Linked DNA regions of Homo sapiens. The protein of the gene in region 2 purifies or fractionates together with the protein of the main gene of each other region. This does not show direct contact. Each region holds a gene or a part of one and is shown on either strand. Other genes may lie near its edges.

Evidence for each region.
Region 1: the proteins of SLX4IP (region 2) and ATG4B purify together in Homo sapiens (co-immunoprecipitation; one large-scale study listed by IntAct). This does not show direct contact.
Region 3: the proteins of SLX4IP (region 2) and ZDHHC11B purify together in Homo sapiens (affinity purification with mass spectrometry, with the first as the bait; one large-scale study listed by BioGRID). This does not show direct contact.
Region 4: the proteins of SLX4IP (region 2) and BLTP2 purify together in Homo sapiens (affinity purification with mass spectrometry, with the first as the bait; one large-scale study listed by BioGRID). This does not show direct contact.
Region 5: the proteins of SLX4IP (region 2) and HEPH purify together in Homo sapiens (affinity purification with mass spectrometry, with the first as the bait; one large-scale study listed by BioGRID). This does not show direct contact.
Region 6: the proteins of SLX4IP (region 2) and MAP6 purify together in Homo sapiens (affinity purification with mass spectrometry, with the first as the bait; one large-scale study listed by BioGRID). This does not show direct contact.

The regions. Positions count from the first base shown.
Region 1 is NC_000002.12:241,665,193-241,668,692, forward strand, and holds part of ATG4B (cysteine protease ATG4B), read left to right. Parts: intron 1-1,452; coding exon 1,453-1,646; intron 1,647-2,950; coding exon 2,951-3,029; intron 3,030-3,347; coding exon 3,348-3,493; intron 3,494-3,500. UniProt on the Homo sapiens protein: Cysteine protease that plays a key role in autophagy by mediating both proteolytic activation and delipidation of ATG8 family proteins. Required for canonical autophagy (macroautophagy), non-canonical autophagy as well as for mitophagy.
Region 2 is NC_000020.11:10,433,958-10,438,104, forward strand, and holds the start of SLX4IP (protein SLX4IP), read left to right. Parts: upstream 1-1,347; 5' UTR 1,348-1,496; intron 1,497-4,147.
Region 3 is NC_000005.10:781,930-785,964, reverse strand, and holds the start of ZDHHC11B (probable palmitoyltransferase ZDHHC11B), read left to right. Parts: upstream 1-1,235; 5' UTR 1,236-1,297; exon of another isoform or gene 1,298-2,023; intron 2,024-4,035. UniProt on the Homo sapiens protein: Probable palmitoyltransferase that could catalyze the addition of palmitate onto various protein substrates and be involved in a variety of cellular processes. May play a role in cell proliferation.
Region 4 is NC_000017.11:28,631,659-28,635,158, reverse strand, and holds part of BLTP2 (bridge-like lipid transfer protein family member 2 isoform 1 precursor), read left to right. Parts: coding exon 1-642; intron 643-1,072; coding exon 1,073-1,264; intron 1,265-1,407; coding exon 1,408-1,610; intron 1,611-1,757; coding exon 1,758-1,876; intron 1,877-1,996; coding exon 1,997-2,217; intron 2,218-2,919; coding exon 2,920-3,110; intron 3,111-3,239; coding exon 3,240-3,339; intron 3,340-3,477; coding exon 3,478-3,500. UniProt on the Homo sapiens protein: Tube-forming lipid transport protein which binds to phosphatidylinositols and affects phosphatidylinositol-4,5-bisphosphate (PtdIns-4,5-P2) distribution.
Region 5 is NC_000023.11:66,195,247-66,198,746, forward strand, and holds part of HEPH (hephaestin isoform a precursor), read left to right. Parts: intron 1-2,436; coding exon 2,437-2,648; intron 2,649-3,500. UniProt on the Homo sapiens protein: Plasma membrane ferroxidase that mediates the extracellular conversion of ferrous/Fe(2+) iron into its ferric/Fe(3+) form.
Region 6 is NC_000011.10:75,586,418-75,589,038, reverse strand, and holds the end of MAP6 (microtubule-associated protein 6), read left to right. Parts: intron 1-854; coding exon 855-1,980; 3' UTR 1,981-2,121; downstream 2,122-2,621. UniProt on the Homo sapiens protein: Involved in microtubule stabilization in many cell types, including neuronal cells. Specifically has microtubule cold stabilizing activity.

The DNA.
Region 1 (3,500 bases), on a different chromosome or scaffold from region 2:
CAAAAAAGTTCAGTGAGTCATGGCCACAAACCCTCCACCTAGATCCACCAATTGTGTTTTGACACGCTTGGTTTTTATGAGCAAGCCTCCTACGAATGAGAGTGTTCCTGAGAGCCACACAGCCTCATCACCACAAAAGAGGTGACGCCACGACTCACCAGGGTCCGTCTTGGCCCCTTGCTGTCCAGGGAACAACCCGTGCCGCTGATTTGTGTTCCTGGTTGAGGGTCCGGTGCTGTGTGTATATAGTTGTGATGTCTTTCTAGTCTTTAATTGAGAAGGTTCTGCCTCTTTGTTGTGGTTGTTGCTGCTTTGTGGCATTTTTGACGAGTTCAGGTCAGCTGACCATCCCACACGCTGGATTTGTCTGCTTCCTCACAGTTGGGCTTGGGTTGAGCCTGTGGCTGAGAGTAGCCTCTGGGTGGCAGTGTCCTCTGCTCTCCCATCCGGGGCCTGCAGTGGGACACTATGTCAGATCCCCGGAGATGGTGTCTTTTTTCCTTTGTAATTAATGAATAATCCAGTGGTGACACTGAGCATGTCCTGGTGAGCTGTGTGACTCCTGCCTGATAATGGTGGTTTTTCTAGCCTGTCCTTTCCTTTCACGTTTATTGGTTGGCGTTCTGAGAAGAGCCGCCTTTTCTCCCATCACTTAGTGTGCAGTGTGCTACCTGTCACCTGTCTGTCACCTGTCAGTCACTGTCACCTGTCACTGTCACTGTCACCTGTCACTGTCCATCTTTTTGATGCTTGACGGTTCCACCTTTGGCCGGTGGCCACCTCAGTCTGGTGGTGTCTTTTGCCGTGTTCTGGCGTTTTTCGTTTATGTTTTGAGCCCTCCCTTATGTTCTGGGTTAAGCAGATGCTGCAGGCACCTCTGAACATTCCCTGCCTGGCCCTGGAATCAGCCTGGCTCCTCTGAGTGGGGAGTGGTGTTGAGAAACCTCGATCTAGACGCCGGGCATGCTCCATGCTCCCGGAGTGTCTTCTCCCATCACCGCACCCTCCGGTTGATGTGTCCTCCGGACCATTGACTCACGGGTGTGTGTAGGCAGAAGGGGTGGAAGCGAGGAAAGGCGTTGCTGAGGAGGCCCGGAGGGAGCGGGTTCTGGCTGTGCTGGCACTAGCCAGGCTGGCAGGCTGCGTGGGTACTTCTGTGATTTTCCTCTCAAGTGCACGTGGCTTTTTCTTGCACTGTTTCGTGTGTGTGCTTTATTTCACAATAAAACTCTTGAATTAAGTATGCATAGAAACTATTTCTTTTTTCTCTGGGTGGCAAGATTATGAAAAAATTTTCTTACGCTTTTCTATATTTTCCAAGTTTGAATTTCACTGTAAGCACCTGGCTTTGTACCGCCCTTTTTCTGTTACACAGTCATCATTTGCTTGCTTGTTGTGGGAGCACTTTTGCACAGGTCTGCTTGGTTAGTGAAAGCATGTCTCCCTTTCTAGGAAGGTTGTGCAGGACCAGCGTTCCCTGTGCAGGCGCCACTGCGTTTCCTGCAGATTCCGACCGGCACTGCAACGGATTCCCTGCCGGAGCTGAGGTCACCAACAGGCCGTCGCCATGGAGACCCCTGGTACTTCTCATTCCCCTGCGCCTGGGGCTCACGGACATCAACGAGGCCTACGTGGAGACGCTGAAGGTGGGTCCTGCCGTGCGGCGCTTGCCCTGAGTCCCCGTCCCCTTCTCCCAGTTCTTAGTCACTTTCAGCGCATCGTCGTCACGTGGCCATTTGTGCAGCCGGCTCTCGGGGGAGGGGTAAACAACCCTGGTTTACACCGTTGCCCAAGGGGTGAGTGGGCGTGAGGCACGTCCATCAGTAGGCACGTGCTGCTTTCGTTCTGCAAGTGTCAAGGCGAGTGTCGAGGATGAAAGCATGAGGCGCTTGCAGGGGGTCCTTGGAACCAGGTGCCACTCCTCGGCCTGACGGGGAGCCCCGCCCCCTCCCGGGTCTCCACTGTGCCCCAGGCATGCCCACCCCACTCCCCCACAGCCCTCTTGGCCTGAGGTCCCTTCGGAGGGTGGGTTGGCCTGTGAGGAAGGGACGTGTGGGCAGGGCCTGGGGATGGGCAGGGCTGTGTGAGGAGCTCCAGCCACAGGCTCCCCCATGTCATGAAAGCAAAAGGGGGCGGGGAGCGGTGGCTCATGACTGTAATCCCAGCACTTTGGGAGGGCAAAGCGGGCAGATCACGAGGTCAGGAGTCTGAGACCAGCCTGGCCAACATGGTGAAACCCTGTCTCTACTAAAAATATAAAAATTAGCCGGGCATGGTGGTGCGCGCCTGTAGTCCCAGCTACACAGGAGGCTGAGGCAGGAGAATCTCTTGAACCCAGGAGGCGGAGCTTGCAGTGACCCGAGATCATGCCATTGCACTCCATCCTGGGTGACAGAGTGAGACTCCATCTCAAATAAAAAAAAAAAAAAAGCAAGCAGAAGGGAAAACCATCCTTTCTTCAGGTAACTCAAATTTTAGACCAAGGAGTCACATTTGTATGGAACTGAAATGTGGCTTCCTGTTAAAATTATTCAGTTGTCTGAACTTGGCCCCTCCGTCCAGCCTTCTGCCCATCCTGTGGGGTCTCAGCTGCCCCCACACATAGGCCCCGTCTCCATCGCTTCTGCCCTGTCAGGTCAAAGCACTCAGCAGGGCCACCTCCCGCACCCCTGCTCACATCTCCTGCCAGGCCCCCTCACTCCCGGCCTCCCCAAAGCCCACCTCTGACATGAAGCTTCCCTGAGCTGAGCCTGCAGATTGGGTTTCTTGTGCCTGTGGGATGTCCTGTGGTCTTTCCTGGACAGTAAGCTCTTTGGTACCATGTCCCCTCCTGTCCCCTCTTGTGTCACCCAGTTGGGCCTCAGCAGGCCCTTGGGCCCCCTATGGCAGTGGGTGGGGGGACCGTCTGCTCCCACCTGGGACCTGTGCTCAGTCCCCCGCCCCTCCACAGCACTGCTTCATGATGCCCCAGTCCCTGGGCGTCATCGGAGGGAAGCCCAACAGCGCCCACTACTTCATCGGCTACGTTGGTGAGTCCAGGGTTCCCACCGTGTCCCTGTGGGCCTGGGCCTTTTAAGGGCATTCCATGAGCAGGTACCACACCCCAGGTGACCACTTGAGGCCACTGGTGGAAAAGCAGCATGCCCTGGGGTTCATTTTCAGCCTGGTCGCGGGCGGCCTCCTGTGTGCCCCTTTCCCTGATGGTCTGGTGCCCTCGGCTCCCTCCCCACCTCCTGCCCACTGCTTCTCAGTGTGATGTGGGTGCAGTGGGTCTGAAATGCGGCCTCCTCTGTCCCTTTCCTCTGCCGGCTCGGCCACCCACCTGCCCACCTGCCTCATCCTCCCAGGTGAGGAGCTCATCTACCTGGACCCCCACACCACGCAGCCAGCCGTGGAGCCCACTGATGGCTGCTTCATCCCGGACGAGAGCTTCCACTGCCAGCACCCGCCGTGCCGCATGAGCATCGCGGAGCTTGACCCGTCCATCGCTGTGGTACGTG
Region 2 (4,147 bases):
CAGCCTCCTCCTTGTCCCCGCCCTCAAATATCCTTCAGTGAGGACACCGGTGACCTTTGGGGGTGGAGAGGGAGGCGCCTACAAGCCCCTTCCCCTCTCTTCGGCCGGACACAAAGCGGGCTTTTCCACCTAGAGTCCCAGCGCTCTCACCTGCGCACCAGCCGTCGCGCCGCCCCAGGCCGCCACCGCCAGAGGCCCCAGAAACAGATCTCAAGCAGCCGCTGCTGCCGCGGATCCCGACAACCTTCGCGTCGCGCGAGGGCACGGAGCACGCGCAGCTCTGCGGTCGACGCCGGGCCGCCCCCACTCCGCTTCTCCGGGTTTTCCGTGAAGCTCCAGCCAACAGCGGCCGTCACCGGAAAAAACGGGGAGCGAAGTTTATTCAGCGTATATTCCAGCAAATTGTTGAAACTGAAATTTTAAAAGAACGCATAAAATTTAAATAACATATCAAAATGGCACAGCTTCTGCCTTTTGGTGAGCGCTTGACAATGATTTATTGAATGAAAGAAAGAAATAGTCCACTGCGCTCTGCTCTCTGTCCTGACATGACCAATTACAAAGCGCTTGGATTTGTCGCTCAGCGCCAGTATCCCGCCTCTCTGTGCGGTTGTCTGGAAAATCAGGATTTTTACTCTCCCGTAACTCCCGGGATCGGGTTTGGAAAACGGACATGCGCCGTGAGAGCTAGTTGCCTTCTACTAAAGCATCCGCCCTCAGTCCTTCCTGAGGGCTTACAGGGAAGTGCGGAGTTTCGCAGCTCGTACTCTTCACAGATTAGATAATTCACCCGGCATTTCCCCATCCTGCTTCTGGGTTCCAGGACAAAACTTTTATTCTCTTTTAACATTAAAAAACATATAGGAAGTTATGTTCAAACATGGCTATTTTTATTAAAATTTATCCGGCACTGTGAAAGCTACCTTTCCTTTCTCACAATCTTTCGCACCGAATATATGTTCCATTCTTGAGCTAGTCATTTTCCAATGTTAAGAAAACACACCACAGAAAAGCGTTTTTTTTTCTCTCGGTCAGTTCAACTGCCTAGCACCGTGAGTTACCATGATACGTTATTTGCTAATGAGAGTCATTGGGGTCCCAGCCTTTAAAAATAGCCTGCGTCCGGCGCCATTTTTGTTTTGGGCCCACTTTGAAAGCCGCGATATTCTGAACAGAGGCCATTTTTCTTTTGGGCAGATTCCACGGGCCATCGAAGTGTTTCGCTGCCATCTTAAATCCTGGCTGTGGCCTCAATCCTGCAGCGAAGCTGCCCAGATCATTTTGTGTTTGGGCGGCGGCTGAGTTCCCAAACGCGCGCGGAGACCCTGGGAAGGAGGAAGTAAGCGCGAAAGTGCTTCCCTTAAGCTTCTGAAGGTTGGCTGCAGTTCCGGCTACCTGTGTAGTCCGAGTTTCCACAGCCAGGTACTACTCCGCCAGTGACCCTGGACAGTAACAAAACATATAAAGCCCGAGCCCAAACCCCGCCACCATCATAGGTAAGCACATGGACCTCTGACAACCTCAGATGTTCCTTCAAGTGAACTGAACTGTTTGCCCATCTCCTCCCTCCTGGTTTTTGGCTTTGATTTTTTGAGACTTTTCCGAATCCTTCTCCCTGTACTTCCACCTTTCTTCATTGTTTTCAAAAAGCCAAAAAGTTGCTAAACATCAGGATGCCATGAGCATGGGCATTACGGTGGAGATATTATTCAGGAAAGTTAACTGTCTTTGCACAAAGGGAATGCAGTAGATGGGCCAGGTATTTGTATCAAATCATGGCTACCTGCATCCAGCAGTACAAATACCTCCCCCTTCCCAGACATTTTTGGAGATGTGAGGTAAATACAGATTGCGTTTGTATATACTTCCCATTCATTCATTTATTCATTGCATTTCTTGAGTACCTAATTTGTGCTAGGCCATAAGGATTCAGGAGTTAGCTAAAAAAAATCCATTAACTCATGGAGCCTACATTTTATCACCTTGACATCTACTAGGTTGAGACAAATAACAGTATTTTATGGTTCTTAGCACTGCTAGACTGTATAAACAAGTATTTGCTTTCTCCTTCCCCTGAACTATTTTTTTTTATTTTTAGTTTTTAATTTTTTTGGCCGGGTGTAGGAATTAATGGTATTGACACTTACTTCTTGGATCCTAGACATAACGATATTTGTAAGCCAGTTGGCTAGCGTTAAAACTAATATTCCAGTTACTTAGGGCCTTGTTGCTCCAAGTTCATTTCACCTACCACCAGCATCAGCATCCCTGGGAGCTTGTTAGAATTACACTTCATGACTCTCACCCCAGAGCTGCTGAATCAGAATCTTCCTCAAGAAGTGTACCTTAAAGTTCAAGGAACATTGATTCAGGGCATGGGCTAAAGATACAGCCCTTTCTTTCTTTCTTTTTTTTTTTAGATGGAGTCTCGCTCTGTTGCCCAGGTTGGAGTGCAGTGGCGCGATCTTGGCTCACTGCCATCTCCGCCCCCCGGGTTCAAGCAATTCTCCTGCCTCAGCGTTCCCAGTAGCTGGGATTACAGGCGCGCGCCACCACCCCCGGCTAATTTTTGTATTTTTAGTAGAGACAGGGTTCGCCATGTTGGCCGGGTTGTTCTCGAACTCCTGACCTCAGGTGATCCACCCGCCTTGGCCTCCAAAGTCCTGGGATCACAGGCCTGAGACATCACGCCCGGCCTGGCCCATTCTTTGTTCAACCCGTGCTTCTTAACTAGATTCACAGTGTATTATCAATTTATTGCATGTTCTAAATGCAATGGATATTTGACAGGTTTTTTTCTGTGCTTTTAGTTCATTGACTTGATGTTAGGGCGTCAATTTAGCTTTCCAAAAAGTTGAAAAGAGATTTTGTCATCCCAATATACTTATATGTAATTTCTGTTATAACATCTGAAATGTAGGGTTTTCTCTGTAAGTCTTAGCATCCAATTTACCACTGGTTTGCGTTTTTTTTTTAAAAGTTGTTTACTGTGCTTCTTGCTTTCTCATATCTTGTATGCATATTTGTACTTTTAATTTGTTAAAAGTTGAACTCAAAAGTTTGCATGTGGACAGCAGTTCAATACTGACTTGGAAAACCTTGGGCCTTGGTTTACCAAAGCTTTTTGTGGCACCTTGCTTTCTTCTGTCTTCCCATTTTATTTTACTTCTTTTATTTTTATTTTTTGAGACAGGGTATAACCCTGTTGCCCAGGCTGAAGTGCAGTGGTGGGATCATAGCTCACTGTAACCTCCAACTCTTGGGCTCAAGCGATCCTTCTGCCTTGGTCTGTCAAAGTGCAGGAAAGCAGGCATGAGCGACTGCACCCAGCTGCCTTCTGTCTTTCTTTAATGAGAAGACTAAATCAAGAGTTCTCAGCCTTGGCTGCACGTAACAATCACCTGGGAGCTTTAAAAACAGACTCCAGCCCTGTATCTGCAGAGATTGAGACCCTCTGGATGAAATTAAAGAGCCAGTAAGGAGTATGAGAAAACAGAAACAACTTTTACGTTTTATGTTGCTATGTTAGATTTTCTCTCCCTTATGGTGTTACTTAAAATAATCGGGATTTTGAAAACCATGAAAAGATCTGGATTAAGAATGTAAGGAACCAGCTTCCCAGTAACTGGTCAACTTGCCAATTATTTGCTCTGTGTCCTAAGAAAGTTGTCCAGCCTTTCTGCTTCTCCTCCCTCCATCTATTAATTGGGAAAAGAAAATAAAGCCACTGTTGTTTTTTATTTAGTTTCATGTGGTGTTGCCAATTGTAGTGAATGTTTATATTCTGTGAGTGTGAGAAAGAAAAGTATTTTACAAGTACAATATTCATTGCTTCTAGTATTAACATACCTCATATTGTGTGTGGCAGTAGAACATGATGGGTTAGGAAATTAACTCTAGAGCTAGACTCCCTGGGTTCAAATTCTAGCTCCTCTACTAATCAGCTTTGTGACCTTGATCAGATAACTTATCCCTTCACTACCTCAGTTTCCTCATCTGTAAGATAGGGTTGATGTGAACGTTAGATAAATTCATACAAGAAAAATGCTTGTCATAGTGCCCGGCACATAGTCACAGCCATGTAAATATTAATTAACTATTGTTAAATTTTATGATAATTAAATTTCTGGGCTTTAAGGTTTTGTTT
Region 3 (4,035 bases), on a different chromosome or scaffold from region 2:
CAGAAGCCCATCTCTGGGCAGCACTGAGTGGAAGGAGAAACCACAGGAGAGGAGAGGAAGTGTGGGGCGCGGGACCACCGTGGGGTGGGTGGGGGCCAAGCCGCCGGGCTGTGAGGCCTCAGCACCCCCTGCCCAGCACCCAGCACCCCAACTTCCCCTTCTGCCTTTGCGGATTCCAGGGCCTGCTGGACACCTGGGGCAGGGACAGAGCCGGGACTGGGGGAGGAGCTCAGCTGCACTAGAGTCCGGCTGGAAGAGTCCCGCTGAAAGTCACCAGAGGCACCCCTTCCTCCTGGGGGGCTGCGCCTCGGCCTCCTCCAGGGCAGGTGCCCCTGTGCCCCTGAAGTCCCAGCACCCAGCACCACAGAACCGCCCTGTCGTCTCGGCCCCGGAACCTTGTGGGGAGCCAACTCCTGCGGAGGGCCCGGCAGCCCCGGGCGGAATGAGCCCCCTCCGCAAAGCCTGTCTGGGGAGCGGGGGAGGGGCGGCAGGTGCCCGGAGAAAGGCGAGATTGGAAGAGCGGCCGGGATGGTGGCGCTGCACACGGGCGACCTGCAGGGAGAACGGAAGCTGAGGCCGGGGTCAGGGGTGCGCGCTCCGCTCCTCCACTCCTGCGTGAAGGGCGGCCCACTCCCGAGCAGCTGCGCTGGGCGCCCGGCACGGACCCGTCTCCCTGCTCAGGTCGATCCCCGGCCGCGCTGTCCCCACCTGGAAGCCCAGTCCCCTGGGTGCGCCCCGCCTTGGGGTCCGAGCACCCTCACAGCCCGGCCCTGCCGCTTCCCTGCACCGTCTGCGGCTCCTTAAAGAACTGGGCGCGGTCGGGGCTCGCCCCGCACTGTCCTCGAGGCCCCGCCGCCAACCCACCCCACCCCAGGAGGCCGCGGCCGCGCTCATCCATCCCCCGCCGCACCGTCAACGCGCGTCCTGCGGGGCGCAGAGATCGGGGTCCGGTCGTCCCCGGGGGGCCCCAGAGACAGGTGAGGGGCCTCGCTGCCACTGCCCAGCGGTTCCCACGGCCCGCAGGTCCGCCGCGCCCTGCGCTGAGCGGATACCTGGCGGCCGGCGGAGCCTCAGCGGAGCCGGTCTTGTAAGGCTGAGGTCTCAGTGCGCCCGCGCATGCTCCGGGCCTGGTGGGGCGGCGGGGGCGGGGCTGCCAATGAACACGAGGGGCGGGCGCGGGACGCTGGGGGCGGGGCTGGGGGCGGGGCGGGGCGGCAGGGGGAGCGCTGCGCTGAGCACTTGGTCGCGCGCGGCCGGGTCGCGGGGGAGCCTCCGCTGCAGTTGCTGCGTCTCCAAGGTAAGCGGGCGCGGGGCTCGGTCCTGCGGGCGCGGCGCGGGGGGCACCCGGGGGCGGAGACTGGGCCCGTCAGCCCCAGCAGCCACCTGCGCCGCAGCCCCTGCCCCCCGCGCTCCCCCGAGCCACATTCCCGGGCCGCCCTGCGCGTCCCTGAGCCCCCGGATTGGGATGCCCGGAGTTCGGCGCTGCGGGCTCGGTGCGAGGACGCGACGGGGAGGCTTTGCAAAGGCCGCGAGCGGGGGTCACCGTCGGCCGCGCCAGGGACAGGTCTGTCACTTTCTCCGGGCCCTGTGCCTGGCGCTTTGGCCTTTCTTCGCGGCCACGGACGCCCCTGCAGCCCTTCCCTCCAGACCCTGCCCAGCCCGGGGCTGGAACCGTTTCCCTATTCCCAGGCGTAGGGGGCCGCCGGTGTGAGGCGTGGGAAATTAGGGCGTGGAGGGCTGGAATGAAGCCACTGCCCGCAGCACGTTTTGAGATCCCTGGCCACAGAAACGGCCCAGAATGAGCGGGTCTCGGGGTCCTGACACCACCGCGTCCTGGCAGGTGGGGCTGTCAGACCGCCCCCCGCAGAGCCTCCAGCTGCCCCGGGCCTTGGCTACTGTCCGCGGGCCTGTGGCGATGGAGAGGCGCTGCCGGGACACCTTCCCGCACCCCTGGGAGCAGCGCCCGAGGATCTGAGGAGCCCTTTATTCTGCGGTTTCGGTTACGTAAACGGAGCCGAGGGAGGTGAGAAGCCTGTCCCTCCCGGGCAGTGGCGGGGCTGCTGTTTTGATAAGCGTTTAGGGGGGCTGCTGTCTTGATGGGGCTTGGGGGGCTGCTGTTTTGATGGGGTTTGGGAGGCTGCTGTTTTGATGGGGTTTAGGGGGCTGCTGTTTTGATGGGGTTTGGGGGCTGCTGTTTTGATGGGTATTTGGGGGCTGCTGTTTTGATGGGGGTTGGGGGCTGCTGTTTTGATGGGGGTTTGGGCGCTGCTGTTTTGATAGGGGTTTGGGGGCTGCTGTTTTGATGGGGGTTGGGGGCTATTGTTTTGATGGGGGTTGGGGGGCTGCTGTTTTGATGGGGTGTTGCGTTCCCTCTCAGTGTCACCGCTGATCCACCTGGCATGTTTATTGGCTCTTCTGCGTGCAGGGCCCCTGGGGGACCGATAGAGGACTGGGCCCCTCCGCCCACCCCGGCCACCCCTCCCCGCCTGACTTCTCAGGGGGAGAGGTCTCCCCCCACGCCCAGCCAGCCCCTGCCCCTGGGAGGTGACCCAGCTCCCTGTGGCCTGGGACTAGGAGATGGGGCTGGACCAAGGCCGGGAAGGGGCAGGAAGTGGAGGGGAGTGAGGCAGCTGCAGCCTGATGCCGGCGCCTTGAACTGGGCTCTCGCGCCTGTCAGCCGCTCGGTGCCAGCGCCTCCCCACCACGTGATCCTCGGAGGGCCTGTGGGGGAGGGGCGGGCTCCCGGAGCGGCTGCAGAAGGCGAGCTCCAGGAGGGTGTGTGCGTTTTCCCGGGAGGGGTCTGCAGCTTTCATGGTTTCTAAAGGGATCTCTGATTCAGAAAGGCGCCGGCATGAACTCGCTTTGCATCTTCACAAAACATGAAGTCATGGGGATTGGACCGCGTGTGCGTGGAGGAAGCTCCGCTGGTCACTGGCTGCGTTTTAATCTTACAGCTGCGGTTGGTCTATCTTCCCGAATTCCCTGAAGTTGCAATAAATGTTTTAGCGATTATACGAGGTTATAAATGCTCGTTGTGGAAATGAGCATAGAATGCTCACAGAAATGGTCAACAGGGGCTTCCTTTTGACCCCCTACCCTAATTTGCAAGCCTCACACTGGCAGTGGCTGCCCTAGGCCTGGGAATCGGTAAACAGGGTTCGTGCACCGGGCTGGGCAGGGCCCGGAGGGAGGGGCCGCAGGGGGCTTCCGTGGGCACAAAGGCCAAAGCGCCACACGCAGGGCTCAGGAGAACTTCCTGAAGAAAATTAGGATCACCCATCGCAGATGGAGACTGGGGAGCTCTCTGGAGAGTCAGGCAGTCTGTTCCCTCCCAGGCCTGTGGGAGCCACCCCCTGCAGAGGACGCAGAGAATTAAAAGCTTCCTCGGGAGAGGCCGTGCCAGCAGAGAGCCGAGTCTATTTATAGCTGTTGGTGAGACAGGGGGAGTGTGTGAGAGGGATGCCATCTGGGGCTCTTGGGGCCCCCAGGCCAGTGCTGGTCAGCGCCCTGCAGTACCTGGCCCAGCCTGGTGCCCTCAGGCAGAAGCGCCTTCGGGAAAACACTCTGGGTGAGGAGAGTCGCTCAATGCCTCCGCCTGGGCTGGGGGAGCCAGAAGGCTATGCCCAGGAGGGTTGTGGCCGGGTGTCTAGTCCATCTGAGCCCACAAACCCTCAGCCAGGAGCCAGGATCAGGCAGCAGAATCTACACACGCCTAGTTCCTACTGCTCGAGCAAAAGGTGTTTCCTGGGAAGGAAGGGGTGGAGCTGCCTGGGTCAGGCCCAGCCACATCTGGGGCTCAGGCCTTGTCCCCAGCATCCACGAGCCAAACCCCAAGCTGCCCTGCGTGGATCCTCCTCCTAGGGAGACCAGCTTCTTCTTGGTGTGTGTGTGTTTGGGGTTGCCACAGGGCCATAACCCACTGCATCCCCCTGATAAGATCTTCCACCCAGGGCAGCCCCCACCCAGGGCAGCCCCCACCCAGTTGATCCCCCACCCAGATGATCCTCCACCCAGATGATCCCCCACCCAGATGAT
Region 4 (3,500 bases), on a different chromosome or scaffold from region 2:
AGACCCTCCGGAACCGTGTTTGGCTCCTCTCTTTCGGCTCAGTCTCGGTGGAGTTTCCTTATCAGTATGACTTTTCTCGAACTCTAGATGAGGCTGTGGGAGTTCAGAAGTGGCTGAAGGGACTACATCAAGGGACTCGTGCTTGGGCCTCTCCAAGCCCTGTCCCACTCCCACCTGATCTACTCTTAAAGGTTGAGCACTTCTCATGGGTTTTCTTGGATGATGTTTTTGAGGTGAAACTTCATGATAACTACGAGCTGATGAAGGATGAAAGTAAGGAGAGTGCCAAAAGACTACAGCTACTGGATGCTAAAGTGGCCGCCCTTCGGAAGCAGCATGGGGAGTTGTTGCCTGCCCGCAAAATTGAGGAGCTCTATGCCTCTTTGGAACGCAAAAACATTGAAATCTACATCCAGCGTTCCCGTCGTCTCTATGGCAACACACCCATGCGCCGGGCACTGCTTACTTGGAGCTTAGCAGGGCTAGAACTGGTAGCTCTGGCAGATGCCTCCTTCCATGGTCCTGAGCATGTGGTAGAACAGGTTCAAGAGCTTGATCCAGGCAGCCCTTTTCCCCCTGAGGGATTAGATCTTGTCATTCAGTGGTGTCGAATGCTCAAGTGCAATGTCAAGAGCTTTCTGGGTAAGTAGTGTTTCCTTTATTTGCAGACCCCGTGTTTGCCCGCTGAGCTCTGGGGAGCTCTCAGTGATTTCAGAGGAACTAGGTTATATTGGGAACTGTGCCGTTTTGGGTGGGTGGAGTGGGATGGGTGGGCTTCCCTTCCCTTTCTTTGTTCCTGAATTTCACCGTGAAATTGCTTGGCTAACATAAAGGGAAAGCTAACACAGTCATCTTTAAGGTTATTGTGTCTCTTGGATCTCAGTGCTATGCCCTTAACCACCTGCTCCAGGGTCACTGTCATTTTTCAGCTTGCTGTGTCAACTGCCTGCCCTTGTTCTCTCAATTGACTTTGTAAATATAGATGGGTAAAATAGTGGTGAGGAAAAAGATAGGCCCGAGAGTGCTCAGACTGCCCCTGAGTAGCCAGTGTGTACCCTTCCTCTGGTAACAGTTCGGATCAGGGACTATCCACGGTACCTGTTTGAGATCCGTGACTGGCGGCTAATGGGTCGACTTGTGGGCACCGAGCAGAGTGGTCAGCCTTGCTCCCGTCGGCGTCAGATCTTGCACTTGGGGCTTCCGTGGGGTAACGTGGCAGTGGAGAGGAACATGCCCCCACTCAAATTCTACCATGACTTTCACTGTGAGTAGAGATGAGGCAGTTGGTTTGGCTGAGGGACGTTTGTGATGGGTGAAATGGGAGGTGAGCTGAGACCCTTCTGGAGTGAAGGAGGAAGAGAGGGGTAATGTTGTGAACAAGTTATAGCCTTTGTTCCTCTACCCCAGCGGAAATATTCCAGTACACAGTGGTGTGGGGCCCATGCTGGGATCCAGCCTGGACACTAATTGGCCAGTGTGTGGACCTCTTGACCAAGCCCTCAGCTGACCCCAGCCCACCTTTGCCCTGGTGGGACAAGAGCCGTCTTCTGTTCCATGGAGACTGGCACATGGACATTGAACAGGCGAACCTGCACCAGCTGGCCACTGAGGTGAGGGGTGTCATGATACTTTTATCCTATCAGGATGGTATGGTTGAGGTCTGTATAGCACATGTGGGAAGAGAGACAGGTGCTGATTTGGGAGATGAGGATGGTTTTCTTACCTATATCTCACCAAATTCTCGGGGGTGGTCATAGGATCCATACAACACAACTGAAAATATGCACTGGGAGTGGAGCCACCTGTCTTTTCATTGGAAACCTGGTCAGTTTGTGTTCAAGGGTGACTTGGATATCAACGTGAGAACAGCCTCTAAGTGAGTGGAGTGAAGGGAGGGTCCTCCATGGGATGAGGGGCTCAGGTTGGAGGGAGGGGGAAGAGCCAAGGGGAAGTGAGTGACCAGGGCACTGAGGGCTGGGGTTCCATTGTGAGGCAGGTATGACGACTGCTGCTTCCTTCACCTGCCTGACCTCTGCATGACACTGGACCTGCAGTGGCTGTGCCATGGGAACCCCCATGATCACCATAGTGTCACTCTGCGGGCCCCAGAGTTCCTGCCTGAGGTGCCCTTGGGCCAGCTTCATGACTCCTACCGGGCCTTTCGCTCGGAGAACCTCAATCTCTCCATCAAGATGGATCTGACTCGGCACAGTGGAAGTGAGGCTTGGGCCTGGGGCAGTGGGGAGGAAGGGCTTGGGAGGACGGGCATGGATGCTGGGGACTTTAGCTTGACCCTCTGGGGAGGGGAGGGGAGGGGAGAAGGGCAAGGGAGAATCTAGGTTAGGACCTTTTTTTTTGTTTTTTGGCAGGGGAAAGGGTTGGTGTCTTAGTCCTTTTTGGCTGCTATAACAGTAATACCACAAGTTTGGTAGCTTATAAACAACAAGCGTTTATCTCTCACAGTTCTGGAGGCTTGAAAGTCGAAGATCAAAAAGAGCTGATAGATTCAGTGTCAGTGAGGGCCCATTCCTCATAGATGGTGCCTTTTTGCTGTGTCCTAATATGGTGGAAGGAGTCAGTGAGCTCCCTTGGACCACTTTTAAAAGGGCACTAATCCTATTCATGAAGGCTCCACCGTCATGATCTAGTGACCTCCCAGAGGCCCACCTCTTAACATCATTACCTTAGGGGTATTTCAGCATGAATTTTGGGGAGATGCAAACATTTAGACCATAGCAGTAGGGGAAAGCAGAGAGCTTAGATCCTTGAAAGAAGAGGGAGTTGGGGATGCTGAATGTGAGGCTAGGTGCTGTTTGGATTTTGGATTTTTAAACCTCTACAACCTGCAGCAAGGGAAGGATTTAGCTTTACCTCTGTGTTTCATCCATAACTAGGAAATGTCTGTCTTTCTCTTTGCAGCAATATCCCAGCCCCGAATTCTGCTATATAGTAGTACCCTGCGCTGGATGCAAAACTTCTGGGCAACTTGGACAAGTGTCACAAGGCCTATCTGCAGGGGAAAGCTCTTCAATAACCTGAAACCCAGCAAGAAGAAACTTGGTCAGCACTACAAGCAACTTTCCTATACAGCCCTCTTTCCCCAGCTGCAGGTAAGGCACTGATGTCCCTGCTGACATCTTCACTTTATTCTGCTTCTAGTTTTCTTGTTTCTCATATTGAGTCCCTTAATCATCCCTCTCATGCCATCCTTTGTTAATGTTATGCTCTCTTGTTGCCAGGTACATTATTGGGCCTCATTTGCCCAGCAACGGGGCATCCAGATTGAGTGCAGTCAGGGCCATGTCTTCACTCGGGGGACTCAGCGGCTTATACCTCAAGGTAAAATGAAAGACTCCTTTCATTTCTCCTATCCTGTTCCTTGTTTTTCCCTTCTCAGTTCCATTCCCCTCCTCCATCTCTGTCTTACACTATCCTCTGAACTGGTCAGCATGGTCTCTGTGTGCCTCTTTTTCTCAGCAGGCACAGTGATGCGGCGCCTT
Region 5 (3,500 bases), on a different chromosome or scaffold from region 2:
CTAGTAAATGTGGGCTCTAGGTGGTACCATGTGTCTCTAGAAAACAAATAAATGGGAGATGGAGAGGATGAAGTAGGCAGAATTATTTGCCATATGTGGATGTTGTTGAATGAATGAATAATATAATAGTAAAACAGAGCTGGGCTTCAATAATAAGAGAAAATTTCTTTTAAATATATTTAAATATATCCTAATTTTAAAAATAAGTTTATTATAGAACTCTGAAAAGCAGACAATTACAAAGTAAATAAGCATCATTTATAGATTGTCATATAAATTTTGATATACCTTTAAATATTTTTATGTGCTTATACAAGTCTATATATAGAGATATGTGATCATATGGTTTGTACAGTTTTGCATCCTACTATTCTCAGTTACCATTGTATTGTGTTTGTTTTTCTATGCCATTAAAATGCTACAAACATTTTAATGACTATAAAACACTTTATCTCAAGGATTTGTCGAAATTTATTTACTTTTTCCTCTATTGCTTGGACATGTAGGTTTTTTTCAGTATTTTTGAATATTGTAAGTCAGGTTGCAATGAATGAATGCATATATCCTAGCTTGCATTTTGGATTACTGTATCAGGAGAGAATCTTAGAAGTGAGAGTATTGTGTAATTGATTTTTTACTTTATCTAAGAATATTAATGCATGCTAATTCTAGCCAAACTATAAAAGAAAAACTGAAAGCATAAAGAGCAAAGTTGCAGACAAATCTAGAATGAACATTCTATAAGGCAACTGGTCTAGTCTCTTCAAGAAGTCAATACCATCAATAAGGGGATTAGAGACATAACAAATGAAATGTGCAAATTTTGATTGATTCTGCTTGTAAAAATAGCTTTAGGAGACATTTTGGAGATAATTGCAAAATTCTTGATATAGACTGGATATTAGATGTTATTAGGGAATTTTCTTAGGTGGAATAATGGCATTATAGCGACATAGGAGATGCGTGCTAATATCATGATGTTTGTATTCTACTTCCAAGTGATTCAACAAAAGCAAACAAACAAAAACTGTATGTATGTGTGTGTAGATGTATATACACATAGAGTAGATAAATAAAGATGGCAAAATGTTAGCAATAGACTCTAGGTGATAGGTTGATCATTGCACTATTTTTTAAAGTTTTCTGTATATTTGAAAATTTGAAAAGTAAGAAATAATGAATGAATAAGGAAAGGTAGGTTAAAACCATCCTAAATTATAGCCCCTTGTTATAAGCTATACTAGAAATATCCTTCCATATGTTTCTTTGAATGTTTTTATAAACCTTTCTTCAGAATATATTTTTAAGTTGGGGAATTGCTATATCAGAGGCTATGTACATTAAAATTTTTGGTACCTACACCCAAATTACTCTCTGGAAAGATTTGCAGTCCTATCAGTTTAGAGTTCCATTAGCAGTACCTGAGGAGGACTCCTTTTCTTACAACCTCATCAGCACTGGGGAAATCTTTTTAATCTTGTCAAAATGACAGTCTTGTAGGCAAACGACAGCATCAACAAAACTCACTGTTGTTTTGATTTACATTTGTTTGATTATTTCATGTTGAACATTCAGTATTTATTGCATATATTATTCTACTTGTGCATATGAACCTTTTAAAGAAATAGCTTTGTCTACATTTTGGTGTACTTTTTTTTTTTCAAATTTTGTCTATATTTTTTTTCAAGTGTTATTCCCTTTTACATTTACACTCTTTATAGGTGAGTGAGTAGGGTAGGTGCCATCTAAACCACTTCTTACCATCATGCATTATTACAATTTGTAAAATCTTTGCTAAATTAATTTGTAAAAAAGTTATCTAGCTATTTTCAATTGTACTTCTTTGATTACTGATGGCATGAAAATTTGAAAAAGGTCTGTGCATTGCTTGACCATGTCTTGTGTCCATTTTAGAAATTACAGCCTTAGTGTTTTATATATATATGTATATATATACATACATACATAACATATACACACCCACATGTACATAATACATATTAAAAGAAAAAAATTAAATAATCAGAGCTGTTCAAAGATGACATGGACTATAATGGCAGGTAGTGAGTCCCCCATCACTGGAGAGTTTTAAGCAGAAGTAGGGATGTAAGAGCAGATTAATGTATGTTTTCAAGTGAGAGATGTTCCAAATAAGTCTTAAAGTCCATTTTTAGTCCCAAAGTCCTATGATTTTGGAAAACTGAAACATAGGGAAGATTAAATTGCTGCATTTCATATAGCAAGTAATGGAAGAACGAGAAAATAAACTCATCTCTTGACTCCTTGACCAGAGTTCTCCTCATTATTCAATATTCCATGTTGCTGCTACTGCTGCTCCAAAATGCCTTTGTAGTTCATAATCTTTATTTCACTGTTTGGAGCTGATGATTCTCATTCTAGTCAATCTAAGTAATGAGTCCCATATTTTCACTACAGGCTCATCTTACCCTGGCTTGGTTGCCAAGCCCTTTGAGAAAGTAACATACCGCTGGACAGTCCCCCCTCATGCCGGTCCCACTGCTCAGGATCCTGCTTGTCTCACTTGGATGTACTTCTCTGCTGCAGATCCCATAAGAGACACAAATTCTGGCCTGGTGGGCCCGCTGCTGGTGTGCAGGGCTGGTGCCTTGGGTGCAGATGGCAAGCAGGTATTGTCAGGGTTATCTGGCTGGAAAGCCTGCTGGGAGAAGGATGAAGCTGGGTTGCTGGATAGGAGTTAAGCATGGAACTGGGTTCTAAAGTTTAGGGAATAGAAGAAAAATAATCAAGCTGGTCCATCAGAAATTAATAGTTGGTGACCTCATACTATCTTGCATGTTATTTTTTGTACTGACAAATATATATCTTCCTTAGCCTTGCAGATAATTCATGATATCCTTTCATCATCTTCTTCTTTCCTCCCTCCTTCCCTCCCTCCCTCTCTCTCCCTTTCCCTCTCCCCCTCTCCCTTTCCCTCTCCCTCACCTCGGTGGCCCCTAAACCTTGCTCCTGATCCATAAATCTGCTTTAATATTTGCTTGTCTTCTTTTGTATTCAGCCCACAATTTCTAGCTGTGTAACATTGGGTGAGCTACTTAACTTCTCTTTGACTCCGTTTCCTCATTTGTAAAAATGGGATAACGATGGAAGAAGACACCTTGGATTTCTGTGAAGATTAATTAAAATAACCCATATAAAGTGCCTAGCACAGTGTCTGGCACATATTAAGCACTCAGTAAATGTTAGTGGTAACAATAATTATCACTGATATTACTTATCTTTTATTTTCTAGTTTCCCCCCAAGACCCTCCCCTGCTTTTCTAGCCACCTCCCCTCATTCCTCTCCCCAGGTGATTACCATCTCTCTTCTTTTACACTCTATACCTCTTATTTCTTATCCTATGCTCCTTCCCTGCCCACTTTCATACAGTCTTCCCTGTCAGGCTTGTACTTTTATTGTGACATTCTTCTCTCATCTGCAATTTGAGGTTACCTAAGGAAAAACTGCTGCAGCTCTGGAT
Region 6 (2,621 bases), on a different chromosome or scaffold from region 2:
TGGGGGTAGTGGGAGTGGTGCATGCAATCACAGGGCGCACTGTCTATGGAGAATTTAAAGCAATAAAGCTAAAAGCTGCCTGTAGTCCAGCTATTCAGGAGGCTGAGGTGGGAGGATCACTTGAGGTCAGGAGCTGGAGAACAGCCTAGGTGACATAGTGAGGCCCCGTCTCTACAAAAACAAATAACAAAAAACTAATAGCTGGCCTGCTTTTTATTATCACTATATGCTGCTCATTCTATACAATGTCAGTGATAAAATACTTTTCCCCTTGCAGGAGAGGGAGAGAGGGGCATTCCCACTGCTTCCTTTCCTGGTATGCCATGGACCCCTTGCCCCTTCTTGCAGCCAGCACTTAACAAGGGGGTCAGGGAGTCAGGGAGGCAAAAGAACTTTGAAGGCCCTGAGAACAAGAAAAGAGCACCCTGGCCTGTGGGGGCATCTGGTGGGCAGCTGAGATGGGGCTCCCAGGATGGGCCCAACGATCCTAGAAGAAAAAGTAGGGACCTGGATGGAATGTGGGGTGGACGGGCTGCTGGGATGCCTACTGGATGACTCCGAGTCCAGCTACAGTACTGCCATTGTCACCAGCGTGCCACCCCCTGTGCCACGTGCAGGTTATAATCAATTGGCAAGCACATTGAATGACTGATTCCTGAGCCTTCACCTCACCCCCCTCCCTCACCCCCGCCCACATTCTGTACTAAGAACACAGAAATCATATTCTCCTGGCTCTCCAGCAAGAGCTGCCCGGCCCAGGCTCCACTAGGCCAAGACTTATTAGGCAATCTGTACTCTGCCCTGTCCCTGCCTGAGCTCTACTCTCACAGTGATCACCTCTCTCTCCTTTGCAGGAGCCTGGCTCAACCCGTCAGTGATTCAAGTAAGACTCAAGGTCCTGTAGCCACAGAGCCAGACAAGGATCAAGGTTCTGTGGTCCCAGGCCTTCTGAAAGGTCAAGGTCCTATGGTGCAAGAGCCTCTGAAGAAGCAAGGTTCTGTGGTCCCAGGGCCTCCAAAGGATCTAGGTCCCATGATCCCATTACCAGTCAAGGATCAAGATCACACGGTCCCTGAGCCTTTAAAGAATGAAAGCCCTGTTATCTCAGCACCAGTCAAGGACCAAGGTCCCTCGGTCCCAGTTCCTCCAAAGAATCAAAGTCCTATGGTTCCAGCAAAAGTTAAGGATCAAGGCTCTGTGGTACCAGAGTCTCTAAAGGATCAAGGTCCTAGGATTCCTGAGCCTGTGAAGAATCAAGCTCCTATGGTCCCAGCACCTGTCAAGGATGAAGGTCCCATGGTCTCAGCATCTGTCAAGGATCAAGGTCCCATGGTCTCAGCACCTGTCAAGGATCAAGGTCCCATAGTCCCAGCACCTGTCAAGGGTGAAGGTCCCATAGTCCCAGCACCTGTCAAGGATGAAGGTCCCATGGTCTCAGCACCTATCAAGGATCAAGATCCCATGGTCCCAGAGCATCCGAAGGATGAAAGTGCCATGGCCACAGCACCCATAAAGAATCAAGGTTCCATGGTCTCTGAGCCTGTAAAGAATCAAGGTTTAGTGGTCTCAGGGCCAGTCAAGGATCAAGATGTTGTAGTCCCAGAGCATGCAAAGGTTCACGATTCTGCAGTTGTGGCACCTGTAAAGAATCAAGGTCCTGTGGTCCCCGAGTCCGTGAAGAATCAAGACCCCATTCTCCCAGTACTAGTTAAGGATCAAGGCCCCACAGTCCTACAGCCTCCAAAGAATCAAGGTCGTATAGTCCCTGAACCTCTGAAGAATCAAGTTCCTATAGTCCCAGTGCCTCTGAAGGATCAAGATCCTCTGGTGCCAGTACCAGCAAAGGACCAAGGTCCTGCAGTCCCTGAACCTCTGAAGACTCAAGGTCCCAGGGACCCTCAGCTACCTACTGTCTCACCTCTACCCCGAGTCATGATCCCAACTGCCCCCCATACGGAATACATTGAGAGCTCCCCTTGACACTCACCCCTTGACACACCAATGAAGGAGCTGACAGTGAGAGTGCTCCCCTCCCAGGGGCAGTGAAGACACATATTTAATCTGCATGAAACATGTACAGTAGTCTTGCTGGAATCTAATAAAAATGGTCCCTCTGGCTCAGCAATGTTTCTCTCTGTCTCTGTTGGGCAGGGGTGCATACATGTGTATAGGTGGGCCTGTCAGGCTCTGCATTCACCCGTCTGGACCAGAGGGGTCTGAGAAGCACCAGTTCCTGTGAGTTGTCAGCATGAGATGGGAGTGGGTAGGCGATGCTAGATGGAAACAGGACCCCATCACGGAGGTGGGCAGGATAAGGCAAGGGTCAGATACCATGACAGCCTCACAAGAGGTGCCAAATCCCAGCAGGCTGAGCCCTGGGTAGCTGAGTTGAAGCCTGCAGATGAAACAGGAGCAGGGACCCACCTGGCACAGGGGAATTCTGGATGACAGTTGTTTGCCAAGAGCTCAGCCTTAAAGCTCATCCAGGGGTCAAACTTCTTGAGGAAACCAGGCTCTGATCATAAGTCTCAGGACACTGTATAACCTAACACCTGCTAATCCTCATTCAATATCCATGACAGCTCAACTGAGAGCTTCTAAAGAATATACCTAGAGCCAGG